Linked DNA regions of Homo sapiens: region 2 is linked to region 1. The links come from fine-mapping of genetic effects on gene expression. A gene starts in region 1. The other region holds a variant in brackets. All regions are shown on one strand. Distances are from middle to middle. Region 1 holds the start of UBXN7 (UBX domain protein 7). Region 2 overlaps UBXN7 (UBX domain protein 7).

Region 1 (9,294 bases):
CTGTACTCCAGCCTGGGTGACAGAACAAGACCGTCTTTAAAAAAAAAAAAAGAAAAAGAAATCTCAGAAATTGTATATACTATGATCCACAATGTAAAAATAAGCATATAAACAAGAAGTGGAAGATAATATGTAAAATAAATATTGCTGTTGTGAGAAGGAGAATTAGTTCTTTTCCCTTTTATCAAAATTATTTCGGCCAGGTGCAGTGTCCCACGCCTGTAATCCCAGCACTTTGGGAGGCCAAGGTGGGTGGATTGCTTGAGCCCAGGAGTTCAAGACCAGCCTGCACAACAAAGTGAGACCCCATCTCCACAAAAAATAAAGAAAGTTACCCTAGAGGCTGCAGTGAGCCGTGATCACACCACTGCACTCTAGTCTGGGTGGCAGTGTGAGACCCAGTCCGTCTCAAAAAAAAAAAAAAAAGTTTTTATGATATTGTCTTTTTAATAATCTTTTTTAATCAGCCATTACTGAACCAGGCACAGTGATGTGCACCTGTAGCCCCAGTTACTGGGAGGGCTGAGGCAAGAGGATGGCTGAGCCCAGAAACTGGAGAACAGCTTGGGCAACAAAGAGAGGAGACCTCCATCTCTTAAAAAAAAAAAAAAAAAATCAAAAATCCGTCATTAGGCCAGGCGCGGTGGCTCACACGTGTAATCCCAGCACTTTGGGAGGCCGAGGCAGGCGGATCACGAGGTCAGGAGATCGAGACCATCCCAGATAACACGGTGAAACCCCGTCTCTACTAAAAATACAAAAAATTAGCCAGGCGTGGTGGCAGGCGCCTGTGGTCCCAGCTACTTGGGAGGCTGAGGCACGAGAATGGTGTGAACCTGGGAGGCAGAGCTTGCAGTGAGCCAACATCACGCCACTGCACTCCAGCCTGGGTGACAGAGCGAGACTCCGTCTCAAAAAAAAAAAAAACATCAGTCATTATTTCATACTCACTGAATCAGAGAGAGATCTGTTCTATTCAGTAAGAAATAAGACTTTTCTAAAATCTTTCAATTTTCCGTTCTATTTCTAAATGCCAAAAAAAGATAAGACTCACATTTATTTTTATTTTTTCTTTTTCTTTTTTTTGCTCCTGCCTAAAAAGTAAGGACTCACATTTTTGATGATGCATTTGTTTTTACAAGAATATTGAGCTTCCAAGTAAAACCTTTGTGAAATCAGAGCATAAGCTATTAAGGTCACTAAAATAAATATAAAATACCTTTTAATTATAAACACTACGATTAAAACGTATGTGGAGAGAACCCCAAAAAAATTTTAAGACATGTAAAAAAGGCAAAAAGAAATCAATCATGTGTTTCTAACGGTTAATCACTATCTTGTAAAAAGAATCCCAAAAATTATCAATAGAAATTCACAATATTTGAAGAACACTCAAAGGTATTTTCGCTCTGTAGATCTCCAGATACCACTGTCTACTGATTGAGGGACTCCAACTTGATCCAGCAATCAAGCTACGTAGACGAACAGAAACAGAATTAAAGCAATTAAGTGAGTCAATTCAACTCACCACACTTCGGTTTTTGTGTGTACCTAATAAAAATGTTGCAACAGAAGAAGTAATGTGGCGTTAAACCAATCAGAGTTTGGGAAGAGTAGTAATTAGCATAAGAAACTGAAAATTAATTAAGTGGCTTTTAGGGCCAGGCGCGGTGGCTCACGCCTGTAATCCTAGCACTTTGGGAGGCTGAGGTGAGTGGATCATTTGAGGACAGGAGTTCAAGACCAGCCAGGCCAACATGATGAAACCCCGCCTCTACTAAAAATACAAAAATTAGCCGGGCCTGGTGACAGGCGCTTGTAGTCCCAGCTACTCGGGAGGCTGAGACAGGAGAATCGCTTGAACCCGGGAGGTGGAGGTTGCAGTGAGCCAAGATCGTGCCTGGGAGATCTGCACTCCAACCTGGGCAACACAGCGAGACTGTCTCAAAATAATAATAATAATAATAATAATAAGTGGCTTTTTTTTTCTTTTTGAGAAATGATCTTGCTCTGTTGCCAGGGATGGAGCGCAGTGGTATGATCTACTCACCGCAGCCTTGAACTCCTAGGCTCAAGCAATCCTCCCACCTCAGCCTCCCCAGTAGCTGGGACTACATGTCGGTGCCACTACATCCAGCTCATTTTCTTATTTCTGTAGAGATGGGGCCTCACTATGTTTTGCCCAGGCTGGTCTGCAACTCCTCGCCCCATGTGAATCTCCAGCCTCCGTCTCCCAAACTGCTAGGATTACAGGCGTGAGACACCGCGCCAGGCCCAAGTGGCATCATAAACCATCTCTAGGAAATCTAAAGGATTAATAATGATATTCACTTCTCTATCAGATTCACTGCAAAGATTTTTCTATATAAGCATAATGCAGCAACACTAACTTATATACACAATAATCTTCTCCATAGCAATGATTTGTCAGACATTAGGAAATCCTTTACATATTTAATATAATAATCCAATCCTTTATATCTTCAATAATCCAATCACAAAGTTCAAAAATATTAAGAGAAGTTATCATGCAACTCCTCACCCCAATTTTATTGCAAATTTTACTTTACTTTGACCTGATGTTCCATGCCCACAAGCTAGATAACAATGCGTCAAATATCTCGTTATCATTGCAAAGCAAAAAAATAAAACTTGCTTTAATATAAAACGGTAACTAGTATACAACCTGTAGTAGTTAAAACAATATAAAATTTTACTTAACCAGATATTGCACGTTAAACTCTAGGAACATTAACAGTGGAAACATTCTCCGCATCTAACAAATTACGAGATAAAGTATAGATCCGTTGAGAGGGAACTAACATTCTGACCTCCTTCCAAAACGACAAACTAGAACGGCAAAATTACACTCAGGCACATTGGAGTACTCTTCTCTCAAATCACTCCACAGAGAACTTCATCATTTGCTCCGCCCTCTAATAACTCATGCAAGAAAAGTTCAGCACCATCAGAGAGAAACAAGACAGAGAGAATTCATAGAATGGCTTTAGGGCCTTTCCTCCAGGCGGTAAGAGGATCTGCGTGTGTCCTTCGCAGGGGTCCAAAGGGAGAGAACCTAGGCCTAGGGTTTCGGGGATACCGACACCCAGAAACAGATTTTCTCTCAAAGAAGTTTCTGCCGCCATCCCTATCTTATCAGCAGGAGGCCCCGGCGCCATCGTCTCCGTCTTTATGATTTTATTATGGGGAGGTGGGAAACGCCACCCTGGATTCTTCCAGGCCTCCCCTATTCAGCTTGGGGGTTCCCCCTCATTCTTCCCTCAAAGCCTCAGTCCCTGAGGTCCTCCTCAGCACCCCCCGCTTCTGGCGGCCTGTCCCCCGTGAAGTGTAAAGGCACGGCCGAACCCACCGGCCTTGCCGTGAAGGCGGGAGGGCCCGAACCCGCCAGGGCCACGGCGATGGCTCCGAGGGGCCCAGAAAGGGGAAGGGCAGGCCGGGGACCGGGGCAGAATGACCTGGCCGGGGAAGAAAGGAAAAAAGGAGGTGAGGAGATGCACCGCACCGCAGGGCTGCACAGAGAAGGGAAGATGATGAAGGAGGAGGAGGAGGGCGGTGGCCCGGGTGCGGCCCCCTACTCCTCCCGCCCCCGGGTCCCCGGGCCGGCGGGGGCGGACGGACTCGGCCCATTCCCAGGTCTGGGCTGGCGGGGGGTTGGGGGATCTCCCTCCACGCTACTAGGAGACAGAGAACGAGGGTATCGGGAGCGGGGGGGGGCTGTCTCCCGCCTGAACCCGGAGACCCCGACGCCGTCGTCGCCTCTTCCTCAGGAGGGAGGACGGCAGCTGTGGGTAAAGCCCGAAGGAGGAATGCCTGAAGGTAAGGGGAAGCCCGGGGCAGACCCGCTGCCCGCTCCGGACCCCACTCTCCACCTTCCGGTAACCGCGTCTCTTACCGGTAATGGTGGTGAACTGTTGAATTAACCCCTTCAGCGCCGAGGACGCCGCGGAGCCCCCGTGGGCAGCCATCTTACCGCCGCCGCCGCCGCCGAACAACAACACAGACACACACGGACTGCCCTCCCCCACTTCGCCGTGCGGTGTGCGCAGGCGCATTGACCGCCCCTCGAGCCCCGCCCCTCCCGTCCCCAGCGGTCTGCGCAGGCGCATTTTCCGACCGGGCCCGCGCGCTCCCAGCTCTCGGGTTGGCTGCTCGGTTGCTGCCTGCTCAGTGCATCCTTTTTGCCATTGCTGGTGCCTTCCTCTCCGGGCTCCAAGGCTAGCCTCGCAGGCGCGGTGTCGATTCCTAGATTCCGAAGGAAGCTTCGGTCTCGGCAGATAGTTCTTCGCATTTCAGCTTCGCAAGCTTTATTGACAGAGCCAACTGCCGATGACAGCATTTTTCTGTTTTGCGGTTGTACCGCACTCTATTAGGTTTCCTGCAGGTCCCATCAAAATGCAAACCCTACCTCCTCGCTTTGAAGCGACTCTCCCCGTACTCGCCCCCCAGCCTCTAAACTAATGGCTTAGCTAACCGATTGCGACGAGTGAAATACCAGAACCCTTCATGCCAAAGAAAGCACTTAGCGCGGGGTTGCCACCCAGTAGGTTTTCATAAACGATTGTTTAGTCTGCTTTCCTTAAATAAATTGGCCATCACGTCTCCCGTTAGGGTCTTAATGAGACCCCAAGAGGCGTCATTTGTATAAAAAGAAACTCTGTATATGCAGTAGAGGAAAGAAAACATATAGAAAGGAGACTGGAAAAGTGTGCTCAAAACGCTGGTAACGGTTACCTCCAGAGAAGAGAACGATCGGGACGATGGTCAAAGCGGACCTTACTTCGAGTTTCTTATTTATCTTTTTATTTTTAAACAAACATTATTGGCCGGGCGCGGTGGCTCATGACTGTAATCCCAGCACTTTGGAAGGCCGAGGTGGGAGAATCGCTTGAGGCAAGGAGTTCGAGACCAGACTGGGAAATATATCAAGAATCCATCTCAAAAAAAAAAAAAAAAAAAAGATATTCGTGTGTTCCTTGAATAATTTTAAGTATTTTGCAAAACAGTTACATGAGTGGGGTGCGCTCAAATCCAATAATCCCCCACCTTGCCCATAAAGTTAAAAGAGATTCCAAGTGATTCCGTTTGTTTTAGCCTCCCACCTTCCAACCTCCACCCACATATTTTGCATCTTCATAGGAAAATGGCCCAATAAAAGATGGGATGAGCTGTCTGAAGAATTGACACATCCTAAGAGTAAACATGCTATTGGGGAGAATTAAGAAAGAGCCATGTCAAATCAAGGGGTATAGTTTTTTGTTTTGTTTTGTTTGACAGGGAGTCTCGCTCTGTCGCCCAGGCTGGAGTGCAGTGGTGCAATCTCAGTTTACTGAAAGCTCCGCCTCCCGGGTTCAAGCGATTCTCCTGCCTCAGCCTCCCAAGTAGCTGGGATTACAGGCACACGCCACCACGCCTGGCTAATTTTTGTATTTTTAATAGAGACGAGGTTTCACCATGTTGAGCAGGCTAGTCTCAAACTACTGACCTCAAGTGATCCACCCGCCTCGGCCTCCCAAAGTGTTGGGATTACAGGCGTGAGCCACCACACCCAGTCGGGCTGTAGTTTCAAGAAGATATGATTGATGTAAAAGAAAGCAGACTCCAGTAATCCCAGCACTTTGGGAGGCCGAGGCGGGCGGATCGCCCGAGGTCAGGAGTTCCAGACCAGCCTGGTCAACATGGCGAAACCCCATCTCTACTAAAAATACAAAAATTAGCTGCTGTGGTGGCGCGGGCACCTGTAATCCCAGCTACTTGGGAGGCTGAGGCAGGAGAATCACTTGAACCCGGGAGGCAGAGGTTGCAGTGAGCCGAGATCATGCCACTGTGCTCCAGCCTGGGTGACAGAGCAAGACTCCGTCTCAAAAAAAAAAATGTATTTTAAGTTAAATGACAGATTGGTCCTGGCACTGCCTTCCAGGTTGCTGCAGTTCTCTAGATGGGCTGAGGAAGGGCAGGGATCAGTCATAAATTTCGGCAGCTGATTCCTTCACATTTGATGCAGAGGTGCAAAAACAGGCAAGGGAAGAAAGCCAAATCAAGAAAGTGTTACCTCTGTCTCCCTTCATCCTAAAGGCTGAGTCACTAGCCAGCCATGCAAAATCAAGCTCCACGTAAAATGGTATAACACCATTAACTACAAAAACTAAACACAGTGATTACTGTACCTCCATCAGATGGAGAGGCCAGTAATGAGCTCTGCAGGTTTATCAGGTTTATTTCCAAAATCTTATAATTCAGATTTAATGATATGATTTTGATTAACAGTGCAGGAAAAGGTGATAAAGTCTGTGGCATCCACAACTCCAGAAGGCATTTTTTTAGAAATTAAAAAATAAGATAAAAGAAAATTAGACAGGTGGCCAAAAAGATTCCATGGTCGGGGGGAGGGGGGGAAAGAAGGGAAGAAAATGAGACAGTTTCCATGGATAACCAGGGAACTGGGAAAAATAAATAAAGAAGTAATGAATAATACAACCTTGAAAAGCTTTTTTGGATTATTAAAGAATATGAAGGACTGACCAGTTGCGGTGGCTCACACCTGTAATCCCAGCACTTTGGGAGGCCGAGGCTGGGGATCACCTGAGGTCAGGAGCTCCAAACCCGCCTGACCAACATGGTGAAACACCATCTTTACTAAAAATACAAAATTAGCTGGGCGTGATGGTGCGTGCCTGTAATCCCAGCTACTCGTGTGGCTGAAGCAGGAGAATCGCTTGAGCCCGGGAGGTGAAGTTTGCAGTGAGCCAAGAATGAGCTACTGCACTCCAGCCTGGGCAACAGAGTGAGACTCCGTCTCAAAAAAAAAAAAAAAAAAAAAAAAAAAGAATATGAATATGAAGGATGGGTGTCGTGGCTCATGCCTGTAATCCCAGCACTTTGGGAGGCCAAGACAGGAGGATCACTTGAGCCCAGGAGCTTGAGACCAGCCTAGGCAACATAGGGAGACCCTATCTCTGAAAAAAGAAAAAAAAAGTTTAATTAGCCAGGTGCGGTGGTGCAAGCTTGTAGTCCCACCTACTCTGGAGGCTGAGGCGGGAGGATCACTTGGGCCCAGGTGGTCGAGGCTGCAGTGAGCCATGATGACACCACTGCACTCCAGCCTGGGTAAGATATGTGGAAATCACAAGGAACAGTGGAGGATCTCATACTAGTAACAGTAGAACTGTCACAACCCATACGTCCAAAGAGATGAGAACAGAGAGAAGTTAGAGAAATCCCAAGTGAGATTTTTTTGCAGAGCAAACCACCATGCAAGAAGCAATGACCTTCTGTCAAGGGACATAAATAAGCAGCTTGAGGCAATCTCAGAGAGGAGCTCAGGGACATAGATACCCTGACCTCGATCTCCTCTTCTGTCTCCTGCCAGGAATCCCCAATGGCTGAACCCAAATGGAAGACAGAGGGCACAGCAAGAAGCCCCTTGTAGTTCCCACAGGCAGCCCCGGGGCAGAGAGCAGGATGGAAAAGAGGAAATTGATGGACACAAATGTAAAATGGAATGGTCATGGAAATACATTCCAAAACTTGAGGAGCTTTTTGGTTTGTTTGGGTCTTTTTTGTTTCATCTTGTTTTGTTTTTTGAGACAGGGTCTCTCTCTGTCGCCCAGGCTGGAGTGCAGTGGCAGGATCTTGGCTCACTGCAGCCTCTGCCTCCTGGGTTCAAGCGATTCTCCTGCCTCAGCCTCCCAAGTAGCTGGGATTACAGGAGCAGGCCACCATGCCCAGCTAATTTTTGTATTTTTAGTAGAGACAAGGTTTCACCATGTTGGTCAGGCTGGTCTTGAACTCCTGACATCAAGTGATCCACCTGTCTCAGCCTCCCAAAGTGCTGGGATTACAGGGTGAGCCACAGAGCCTGGCCCGAAACTGATGGAGTTTTAACAGAAGCTAAAGGAGAATATATAAGCTTAACTGGTTATATTAGAGAAGAAGACTGGAAAATAAGTAGCTCAGCATTTCATCAAGAAGTTAATAAAGGAACAACAACTCAGCAGACAAGGAAAAATGTGAAGAAAAAATGCTAAAGAGCAGAAATTGACAAAATAGAATACAAAATACAGAAGAGAGGATTCATAAAACCAAAAGCTGGTTCTCTGAAATAACAATATGTAAAACCTTTGACAGGCCAGGTGTGGTGGCTCACACCTGTAGGCCCAGCACTTTGGGAGGCCGAGGTGGGTGGATCACCTGAGGTCAGGAGTTCCAGACCAGCCTGGCCAACATGGTGAAACCCCGTCTCTACTAAAAATACAAAAATTAGCTGGACGTGGTGGCGGGCGCCTGTAATCCCAGCTACTTGGGAGGCTGAGACAGTAGAATCACTTGAACCCAGGAGACAGAGGTTGCAGTGAGCCGAGATTGTGCCATTGCACTCCCGCCTGGGTGACAGAGTGAGACTCCATCTCAAAAAATAAAAAAATAAATAATAATAAAACCTTTGACAGATTAAGAACAAAGAGAAAGACACAAACAATATTATGAAAAAAAGACATAGCAGACATAGCCGTGGCTTGAAAAATAAGAGAATATTATGAATAATTTTATGCTGATGAATTAGGAAATAGATAAATGACAGTTTCCTAGAAGAAATAATTAACAAAATGGAACTCAACTATGCATAGACTTATGACCATTAACAAAATGAAATCTGCCACACAAATGACCACACCCCAGTGATTTTACAGGAGATTGCTACCAAAAAAGTTAAGAAACAGATTATCCCAAACTTATACAAATGCTTCCAGATAAAGAACAATGGGAACAAACAGCTCATTCTATAAGGGTAGCATAACCTTGAAATCAAATCAAACAAAATAATAAATGAGAATTCATCCTCACTCATGGCTACTGAAACAGATATCTTAAATTAAATCAGAATTTAGAAATCCACATATTCACACATACATGTACATATTTTTTTTATTGGGTTTACTTCAGGAATGCAAGCATAATTTTACAGTAAAAAGCTCTTACAAATGGCACAGTTGCTCGCCCCTGTAATCCCAGCTACCTAGGAGGCTGAGGTAGGAGGACCACTGGAGCCCAATTGTCTAGGAGTTTGAAGCTGAATGAGCTATAATTGCACCCTGCACACTCCAGCCTGGACACCAGAAACTCCAGAAAAAAAAAAAAAAAACACCTCTGTCAATGTAATTCACCATAGTAAAACAAATTAAATAAGAGAAATTATTTGATTCATTTGATCAGACACAGGAAAACCATTGATATAAATGCACATCCATTCACAAAATGTTTTAAAAACCTTAACAAACT
Region 2 (9,294 bases), 82 kb before region 1:
TCACCACCATAAAGACCCAATCAAGGAGGTGCAGGCAGTGAGAAGAAACACCAGGCAGGGCGCAGTGGCTCACATCTGTGATCCCAGCACTGTGGGAGGCCGAGGCAGGTGAATCACTTGAGGTCAGGAATTCGAGACCAGCCTGGCCAACATGGTGAAACCCCGTCTCTACTAAAAACACAAAAATTAGCCGGGCGTGGTGGCGGGCACCTGTAGTCCCAGCTACTCGGGAGGCTGAGGCAGGAGAATTGCTTGAACCTGGGAGGCGGAGCTTCCAGTGAGCTGTGATCAAATCACTGCACTCCAGCCTGGGCAACAGAGCGAGACTCTGTCTCAAAATTAAAAAAATAAAGAATTCTCTACTGGCTCCTTTTCTATTTTTTTTTTTTCATTCTATTAGAATCAGATCTGTTTTTCCATGTATGTTTATCGTCTGTTTCCAACTAGAAAGTAAGTTCCTTGAGGGCAGAGGCTGTATCTGTTTTGCTCCCCATCACATACATCCCTATTATTTGGCACATGAGGCTGGAGCATGGGGATGAGAAATGGTTCCACAAGAAAAGGGGGGGCACAAACCCATCACTGTAGAACTGTGAGCTAAGCAGCAGTCCCTTTTTTTTTTTTTTTTTTTTTTTTTTTGAGATGGAGTCACTCTGTCACCCAGGCTGGATGCTATCTCGGCTCACTGCACCCTCCACTTCCCAGGTTCAAGCAAGTCTCCTGCCTCAGCCTCCCGAGTAGATGGGATTATAGGCACTGCCACCACGCCCGGCTTTTTTCTTTTTTTTTTTTTTGAGACAGAGTTTCACTCTTGTCGCCCAGGCTGCAGTGCAGTGGCACGATCTCGGCTCACTGCAACCTCTGCCTCCTGGGTTCAAGCGATTCTCCTGTCTCAGCCTCCCAAGTAGCTGGGATTACAGGCGGCCGCCACCACACCCAGCTAATGTTTGTATTTTTAGTAGAGACGGGGTTTCACCATGTTGGCCAGGCTGGTCTCGAACTCCTGACCTCAGGTGATCCGCCCATCTCAGCCTCCCAAAGGGCTGGGATTACATGCATGAGCCACTGCATCCAGCAGCAATAACAATTTCTGTCATACCATATAATCGTATCTCCTTTTTGCCCATTAATTTAGTAATTATCTTTCCTTCAATTAAGCTAAGTCCTTAATTAACCATTAGTAATTACTGCTGGTCTGAAAGAACAGACACTGAATATTCGCCCAAGTATGTCAAACACAGAATCATACTTACCTAACAAGCCTAGCTTACCCAATGTTTCTGTAACAACTGGACTAATATTTACAGAGTGTTTACCATGAATGTTTGACATACCACAAAGAGCAGAAAAAAGGCTAGCAAACGTTACACATAACAACGGGACTACAAAGTAACCTTTGTCAATCAATAGTAACTGACCTAAATGAGAACGTGAGGGGGCAAGCTTTTGGAATCTCAATTGTATTACTGAAAGTAATATCCAGAGTCTTATCTTGTAAAAACAACAACACAAAAAAAACTAATACTGAAAAGTTTTTGTTTTTATTTCCAAGATCAAATATTACAACAGGACATTTACATGTATTTATAAAAAAATGCAGCAGTTGAATGTATAGATCAGAGGTTTCCTTGAGTTTGGTCCCTCTCTCAGCACAGTGAGCTGATGTCTTCAAAAGACTTATCGTCCCACTCCCTTCCCTCCCCCACCCCATTGTCCCCCCACCCTCCCCGTTTCAAGTTGCAGTATTAATATAAAGCAACTGGGTACAACACAGCAAGAGTATTCACAATTTGGTACAGACCAAACCAGAGGATCCCCAACTGACAGCAAGATCCTCCTTCTGGAAATTATTACCTATAGACTAGGTAGATCTATAGGTAGATCACACCCAGTTATCTAAGATTTCCCTGGTTTTAGAGCAAGTGGAAGTTCCATTGAGTCTTAGCCAGTAGTTACAACTCTGCGTTACCTAATGGCATGTTTTTCTCCTCTTACAAGTTTAATTTTCTACCGCCTCCATGTGTCTTCAAATTTAAGGCTTTCCCAAGCACCTTTATTATGACTTACTAGATATACAGGAGGGTCTCTAATGTGTCTTGAACAAAAAAATTTAGTGGATGGTCCAGCTGCCCCTTGCTCAACAATCCCAAAGACTTCTTCCCACCACTGAGAAGAGCTGCAGAAATCAACGGTATCTCCTAGCACCATTGGAGAAAAGGCCCAGAAAACAGAATTCGATGTGCATTTTAGGGAGCACTTGCCAGAAACATTACAACAGGAGCACTGTCTCTGTTATCTTCTTGGATTCAATCACAAATTTAGAGTACAGATGAAATTTAGAGCCTGTCCTGCATTAAGAATGCAAATCTCAGTAAGACCACCCCCACACACACTTTGTCCAGAATAAGTTGAGCCACAAACATCCCAGGGAATCTCTAAATACTGTTAGGAACTGCTTTAGAAAACACTTTAAAGCAAATACCCCAAGTTGACTTCACTCAAGCCCCCAACCCACCCTCATCATCCCTATCCCCCTAGAAATTTCATTCCTTGATTAACTTCTCTGAGTAAGATGTAAAGTGAGGTTTGGAAAATGACATGAAACATGAAACATGTTTAAAAACACAATCAATGAAGACATGCCAGAACTGGACATCCCAGGTGACTTCAAATGCATTGTTCAAGCCGAACTCATACAAAGCATGCACAGAGCCTGCACAGACACTGCTGAGAGTTTCCAGGGAACAATCAATACCTACTCGAAAAAGGACTTTCCTGAAGGGCAAACAAAACAAAACAAAACAAAACAAAACAAACAAAACAAAAAGTAACACTGGATGTTTAGAATTTGTTAACAACAACAACAACAAAAAACCATTCTGGAAAAAAAGATTATCAGAGGAGTGAAGAAAACCGTGTCTAACAGATTCATGCCAAAGCTTGGATGGAAGCCCCTCAAAGTCTAAGTATCGTGTTAGCATCAACTGGTACTCATTTCTCTATATCTAAGACTAGAAGATTCTCTCACAGCTTTACTGTTTCCTGGCAAGTGTTTTCAACAGCCTTTCCAGCTGAAGGGACGAACCCAGGAAAGTAACAAGGCCCAAGACCCCACATGGGTCAGATAAGCAGCCCCTACTAGAAGCTTGCTACTCGTTAACTGAAAAGTGGAGGCCACGCACTACTTTCACTCTCTCTAGCAGGTGAAAGGGGATTTTCTGATGGCAACAGTCACTCCGTGTAAGGTTTAACTTACAGGGCAATAAGTTATCAAAAAGTTATTGTTAAAAGCATATGATTAGTGTCATAAACATATTTATATTTGGAATTACACCATTTGATATCTCCATTAAGAATGCAAAGCTTTGAGAAAAGCATACTGTAAAATCATGTTGCTGCAAACAGCAAGGCATCCAGCTGAGTGTAAGCAGTCTAATGTCATCAAACTGAAATGGACCCTCGTGACGGGCACTATGGAACCAGCTACCTAGATAGAGAGAAAAAAGGAGAATGGCAGGGAACGGTTCCAGATCAAGAATCTCTCCCTTATCAGTTAAGAGTTCCATACTGAGTCTATGAAAAAAGCAAATTAAAAAGATTTTAAGAAAGGGGGAATTCAATTCCAGGTCAGAATTTATCTAATGATTTGATATGTTTCCCATTTATCATGTCTAAAAAATGAATGACTCATGCTAACCCAGTTAGATTAATAACTTCTTTTGATGAGAAAAAATATTACTTAGGTTTAGTCCAGCTTAGCTTGACTATTCTTCCCATTTGAAAACCCAAATGACCTTTAGAAGGGATATAAAATACCCAGAGTATTGTGATCTCTAGAGAGGAAATACAATTAAACAATAAAAACTTGCTGTTTGTTGCCAAAGAATTAAGTACAATAATGCGACTTCTCATATTTATAGATTAATCTGTGATTGCTCTTGGGAAAAATACTATCATTGGTATTTGCCATCTCTAATCCTAGAAATAAATCTGGTTATCTTTTGAAAATACTTTCTCATTACAGGAATGCTAAATTATGTTTATTAAAGTAGTTCAAATTGGATTGCCCAACTTTATTTTGAAATCAATAGCAAAGAAAGGCCTGTGCCAAAAATCATCATGTTTATGAGAATATCTGCAATTTTAAGCAACACAACAGCAACTGGTAGGCCACAAAGAGGGTGGGGTATCACAGAGCTAGCCATTCTCTATATGAAACCAGAGAATTCTCCTTAACTAGGGAGAAAATGAGCTATAAAAGTAAGTTTGCCTCAAAAATGTCCTTCAATTTTATAAAAAATGAAGATTGTTACATATTAAGACTTTGAAATGGAATTTCTTAAACATAGCCAATTACACTAAAAATCATAACTATTTTCAGAGAATGAATGTTAAAAATAAATGGTGGAGAAGTAAAATGGAAAGCAGGATTAAAAGATTTCTAATTAAGGGTCTGTCACTTCACAGGACAACTAGCAAGGCCATTATAATCTCTATTTTTAAAAAGACATCAAGAAATTCTTGATTCTATACTGTCTCTCTAGCAGGACTGACACACAGGTGAGTCAAAAACCATAACCATCACTGAAATACCAAATCTCTATGTAACAGGAGAAACCGATATATTGGTATGGTATTCTCTGTTGGGTTATCTGCAGTTCTAAAGAACATTCTTGCCACTATTCTAAAATGTGTACAGTGCAACACCATGTTTCACGGCAAGACAATAACTGAAAAGCTAAGCCAGGCAATCCAGTGAAGTTGAATGTCCATAGTACACAGCTGTCTTTAGCCTATTCATCAAGGCTGGTATTACCGGAAAACTGCCATGTTCACCAGAAGAGCTGTCTCTTCCTATGCTCATTACATTTTAGTTTTACAAAGACTACTAATTCATCAGCCTGCACCCCATGATTTACTACTGCGTAGTTACATGATGGTCAAAAAAGGCAGAGAGACGGTAAGAATGACATAATAAAGATACATTCTGTGGAATAAAAAACATTTTTAAGTCAGCCTAATTGTATCTTTAAAAAGCTGTTTCTGCCAAAACCAGGTGTGAATCTTATACAAATCAATTTCCCAACAGGCCAGTAAAGTACTTTAAGTACACAAGTAAAAATAAAATTTAGTGCCAG[C/A]GTTAGTGTCATATTTGGTTCTCATTTACATTTTAGTCATACTCAACACTGATTAGGCACACAGCATTAAGTTTTAAAAAATAATGAATTGTTTACAAGATTATTATTACTAGACCTATAACTACTATACTCTCCTCTTTGGAGATTTCAGTCATCGCAGTAAGATTAAGAGCAAGTTGTTGGTCAAATGATACCTGAACACAGAATAAAAAAAAGAGAGAAAAAAAAAGTAAAGAAACTGATTAACCAGCACACTTTTAATTAGCCTAGGGATAATACGCAATCACGGGGAGAGACTGGAAGCATGAAATTTTGGAAAAGGACTTCAGAGATAATCTAATTTGTTGTTCTAGAAAAGGCTGAGAACTATTAATCTAGTCCAATTATCTCATTTTTCAGACGAGAAACCAGAGATTAAGAAGAAAGAGAAGTGTGAAGGTAACAACTAGCAGAGCTGTTACCCAAAGGGCTCTCACACCTCCAGTGCCCTTTCTGCATATAACATATACTATACTATGCATTGGATTTGTACCTGGGTAGAGAAATTAAATCTTTCCTTCATTTTTCGGTTGCTAGTGGCTCCCTCTGGTATTTTCCCTAAGTGTGCAAGTAAGATTCCTGCGAGCTAGGAATCTTTACTCCGGGGGATCAATAGTGAGATCCCCGCAAGCTAGGAATCTTTACTCCAGGGATCAATAATCCTTTCCTACTTGGGTACTGGTTATGCCTTAGTGGCAGAACTTCATGCCCCAAATCTAGAAGTTACAAAAGGTGGAGCTAAAGAAAAAGGTGAGTCAAAAGAAAACGTGAGCTACAGTGCTTGCCACTTCAGTCTTGTTTAAGACTTTGCTAACTAAAACATATTCTTCCCTTTTTCTAAGTTTGAACTAATAGGTAAACATTTACATGCTCTCCAATTATTTCATGTGTAGTGTGTCTCTCTAACTGGATAAAACAGGCAGGAATCATATCTTATTTATTATTTTTTGAGACAGAGTCTCGCTCCATTGCCCAGGATGGAGTGCAGTGGTGTGATCTCGGCTCACTGCAACCTCCGCCTCCCAGGTTCAAGAGATTCTTGTGCCTCAGCCTCCCCATTAGCTGGGATTACAGACAGCCACCATGCCTGGCTAATTTTTGTATTTTTCAGTAGAGATGGGGTTTCACCATGTTGGCCAGGCTGATCTCGAACTCCCAACCTCAGGTGATCCACCCACCTCGGCCTCCCAAAATATTGGGATTACAGGCATGAGCCACCACACCTGGCCAGGAATTAGATCTCAGATTTCAAAATACTTCCAACTTCTATAAAGAACTCAATAGCTAATTGTTGACTTGTAAGTCAAGGAAGTAGAATTATATACAAGATTTAAAAACATACACACAGAGGGTTCAATAATCTGGTATGGATGGGACACAGAAAACAGAATTGTAGATCGGGCGCAGTGGCTCATGCCTGTAATCCCAGCACTTTAGGAGGCCGAGGTGGGCGGAACACGAGATCAAGAGATCGAGACCATCCTGGCCAACATGGTGAAACCCTGTCTCTACTAAAAATGCAAAAATTAGCCGGGCGTGGTGGCGCTCACCTATTAAAAAAGGTAATTGTATCTTTTCTGAAAAATGTTTAAAAAAAGAAAAAATTGTTTTTTTACCCTTTTCATTTATTCTTGGCAAATAATGCCACGTGGCAATTTTACTTTCACATCTTCACCAGTGCATCATTTTAAAAAAGCAATAATCAGCCTCTCAAAATAATGGCATAAATAAAAATGTATAGGCATAGTGCAAATCCCACAACTTTAACCCAACTACTTCCTCTATATTTATGGGAACAAAACTAAGTGACACTTTACAAAGCCAAACAATGAGAAGAGAATCATCTGGGTAGCTTGATTCTCTTGCTGAAGGAGACCACAGCATGGACTCTGGATTCCAATTCTGATTTGCCACTCACTAGCTATGAGTCCTGAATAAGTTCTCTATACCTGTTTTCTTAACATGGGAAGAAAGTATACATTTTGTACGATTCTTCGGGAGATTGAAGAGGCAAATGTACACAAAAGTATCTGGTGCATGCCAATTAGTATTAAGTTTCCTGTTCTTTTCTCATTTGGCACTGTTGTTTTCTCTTCTCCAGTTCCTTCCGATACCAATTTCAAAAAAGTATTCCTCTCACTTTTTTCCCACTAGTTTTCTTCTTCTTCTTCTTTTTTTTTTTTAAATTTGAGATGGAGTGTCGCTTTGTCGCCCAGGCTGGAGTGTAATGGTGCGATCTTGGCTCACTGCAACCTCTGCCTCCCAGGTTCAAGCCATTCCCCTGCCTCAGCCTCTGAGTAGCTGGGATTACAGGTGCACGCCACCACACCCAGGTAATTTTTGTATTTTTAGTAGAGACGGGGTTTCACCATGTTGCTCAGGCTGGCCTCGATCTCCTGACCTTAGGTGATCTGCCCACCTCCGCCTCCCAAAGTGTTGGGATTACAGGCATGAGCCACCGCGCCCGGCCTTCCTGGTAGTTTCCATTCCATCTCCCTGTATTTTTCTCTTATCACTCTCGAAGTCTATCTTTCTTGTTCTTTTCCTCCCTAGCTTTTTTTTTTTAAACACTCCTTTCAAGCTGTGTCCAACACCCACAAGGAATGACTATTTTTAACTAATCTTACTGACCTCATTTAATCTATTCAATAAAACCTCTGCCCTAAGGAGCAAAGAAACTTGCAGAGGAAGTAAGGCAAACTGGAAGAAGCATACTGTCAGCGGATTAAATTCTTGAGCAAGGCAATACTCCTTATGGATTCTTCCCATGTACAATCCGTAACTCTTCCCATGGGCCTTTATATCAACCCTAAGATAATTACACTCCTGCCTCAAAATAAAATAAAATAAAACCCACCACATCTTGTATTGTAGACATCCCAGCTGCATGTTAAGCTGAGTGAAAGTACCATGCTGTCTTTTAAATCACTTTATATCTACTTAATCATCCCACAGTAACCCGAGTTGAAGAAGTTACTTTGGTTTCTCATAAATGAATATGCACGTGCTGAACATATCGGAAAGAACCACACCCTCTCACTGATGAACACGTTGGCAGTTCTCCCAACTGTTTTATCAAGAGAAGCTAGAAGGTAAAGAAAAGGAAACAGAGCCCTATAGGAAAAATGATTGACTTCACACGTTTGAGCGATTTGGGCTTCAGCTATGACTTTGCTGGAGTACAGATGGGTGCCATCAGAGCACAAAGCTGAGCAAACCTCTCTTCTTACCCTGTGCCCTCCCTGAATTTTTGGATTTCTGAGCTTGTCTACTACCAACAAATGTTTTACCCTCCAGTGCACCTTTGACAGTATACAGCTCTATTTTTCAAACGGCAAGTATGTTATCCAAGTTCAGAGATGCAACTGAGGAATTAACATGAAAACCATCTTTCACTCAATAAATCAGAAGCTGCTAGTTAAGTAAGCCTCAAGAACCTAAGAAAAAACACCAAAGTGTAAGTATTACTCAGTCACCAATCTAAAGACAGAACTTTGACTCAAGGTAGAAATGAAACCGTAATTATATAAATATATTTATAAATATTTATACAATTATATACTTATACATAAGCACTTACACAGACTTAGAAAAAAATTTAAGAACATTAATTCAAAAGGACTCACTGAAGAATAAACAGATTTTTCCATGATTTCCTTGAGGAGATATAAAACTCATTCTTTAGGGAGAGTTCCTCAAAATTCAACCATTAGAAACCATATCCTATAACTGTGTACTAGCAACACATGGCATCTTTTTTTCTTCTTTTCCCAAATCCCCTAATTGCCAAGAGAGCAATCTTAAAGTAGATGAAAACCTAAAGGTCTCTACGCAACATCTGAGGAACATACGCTCCTCAGATAAAAGAATCAATCTAAATCCTCAACTGACAAAAAGGTCCATTTAATATTTTTCATTTTACAAGTTAAAAGTTCTAGTTTTGCCACCAGAATCACGACTACCCCCCCTTCAGAGGACTCCATTTAAGCTCAAAATACGAAATGAGCATAGGGTGAAGTTGATGTGTAAATGGTATTCTACAGATTCAAGATGGCCTCTTCTAAAAACACTGAAGAAAGCTTTCACCAACTCTAATTTGATTTTGGGTTTTGTTGGC

The links.
Region 2: its variant is fine-mapped to the expression of UBXN7 in whole blood (TOPMed, PIP above 0.99).

The regions. Positions count from the first base shown.
Region 1 is chr3:196,428,414-196,437,707 of GRCh38, forward strand. UBXN7 (UBX domain protein 7) reads right to left here and starts at 4,014. Exons shown (of 11, transcript NM_015562.2): 1 at 3,914-4,014. The coding sequence starts at 3,986. It overlaps UBXN7-AS1 (UBXN7 antisense RNA 1), which reads left to right and starts at 2,972. Exons shown (of 2, transcript NR_046745.1): 1 at 2,972-3,028; 2 at 3,789-4,621. RefSeq lists enhancers at 2,771-3,545, 3,122-3,171, 3,546-4,319, 4,252-4,331 and silencers at 3,882-3,941, 3,962-4,211.
Region 2 is chr3:196,346,140-196,355,433 of GRCh38, forward strand. It overlaps UBXN7 (UBX domain protein 7), which reads right to left. Exons shown (of 11, transcript NM_015562.2): 11 at 1,523-9,294. Among named protein-coding and RNA genes, the nearest start is that of TM4SF19-DYNLT2B, 12 kb to the left of the region's middle. The variant C/A (reference allele first, on the strand shown) is at 5,139.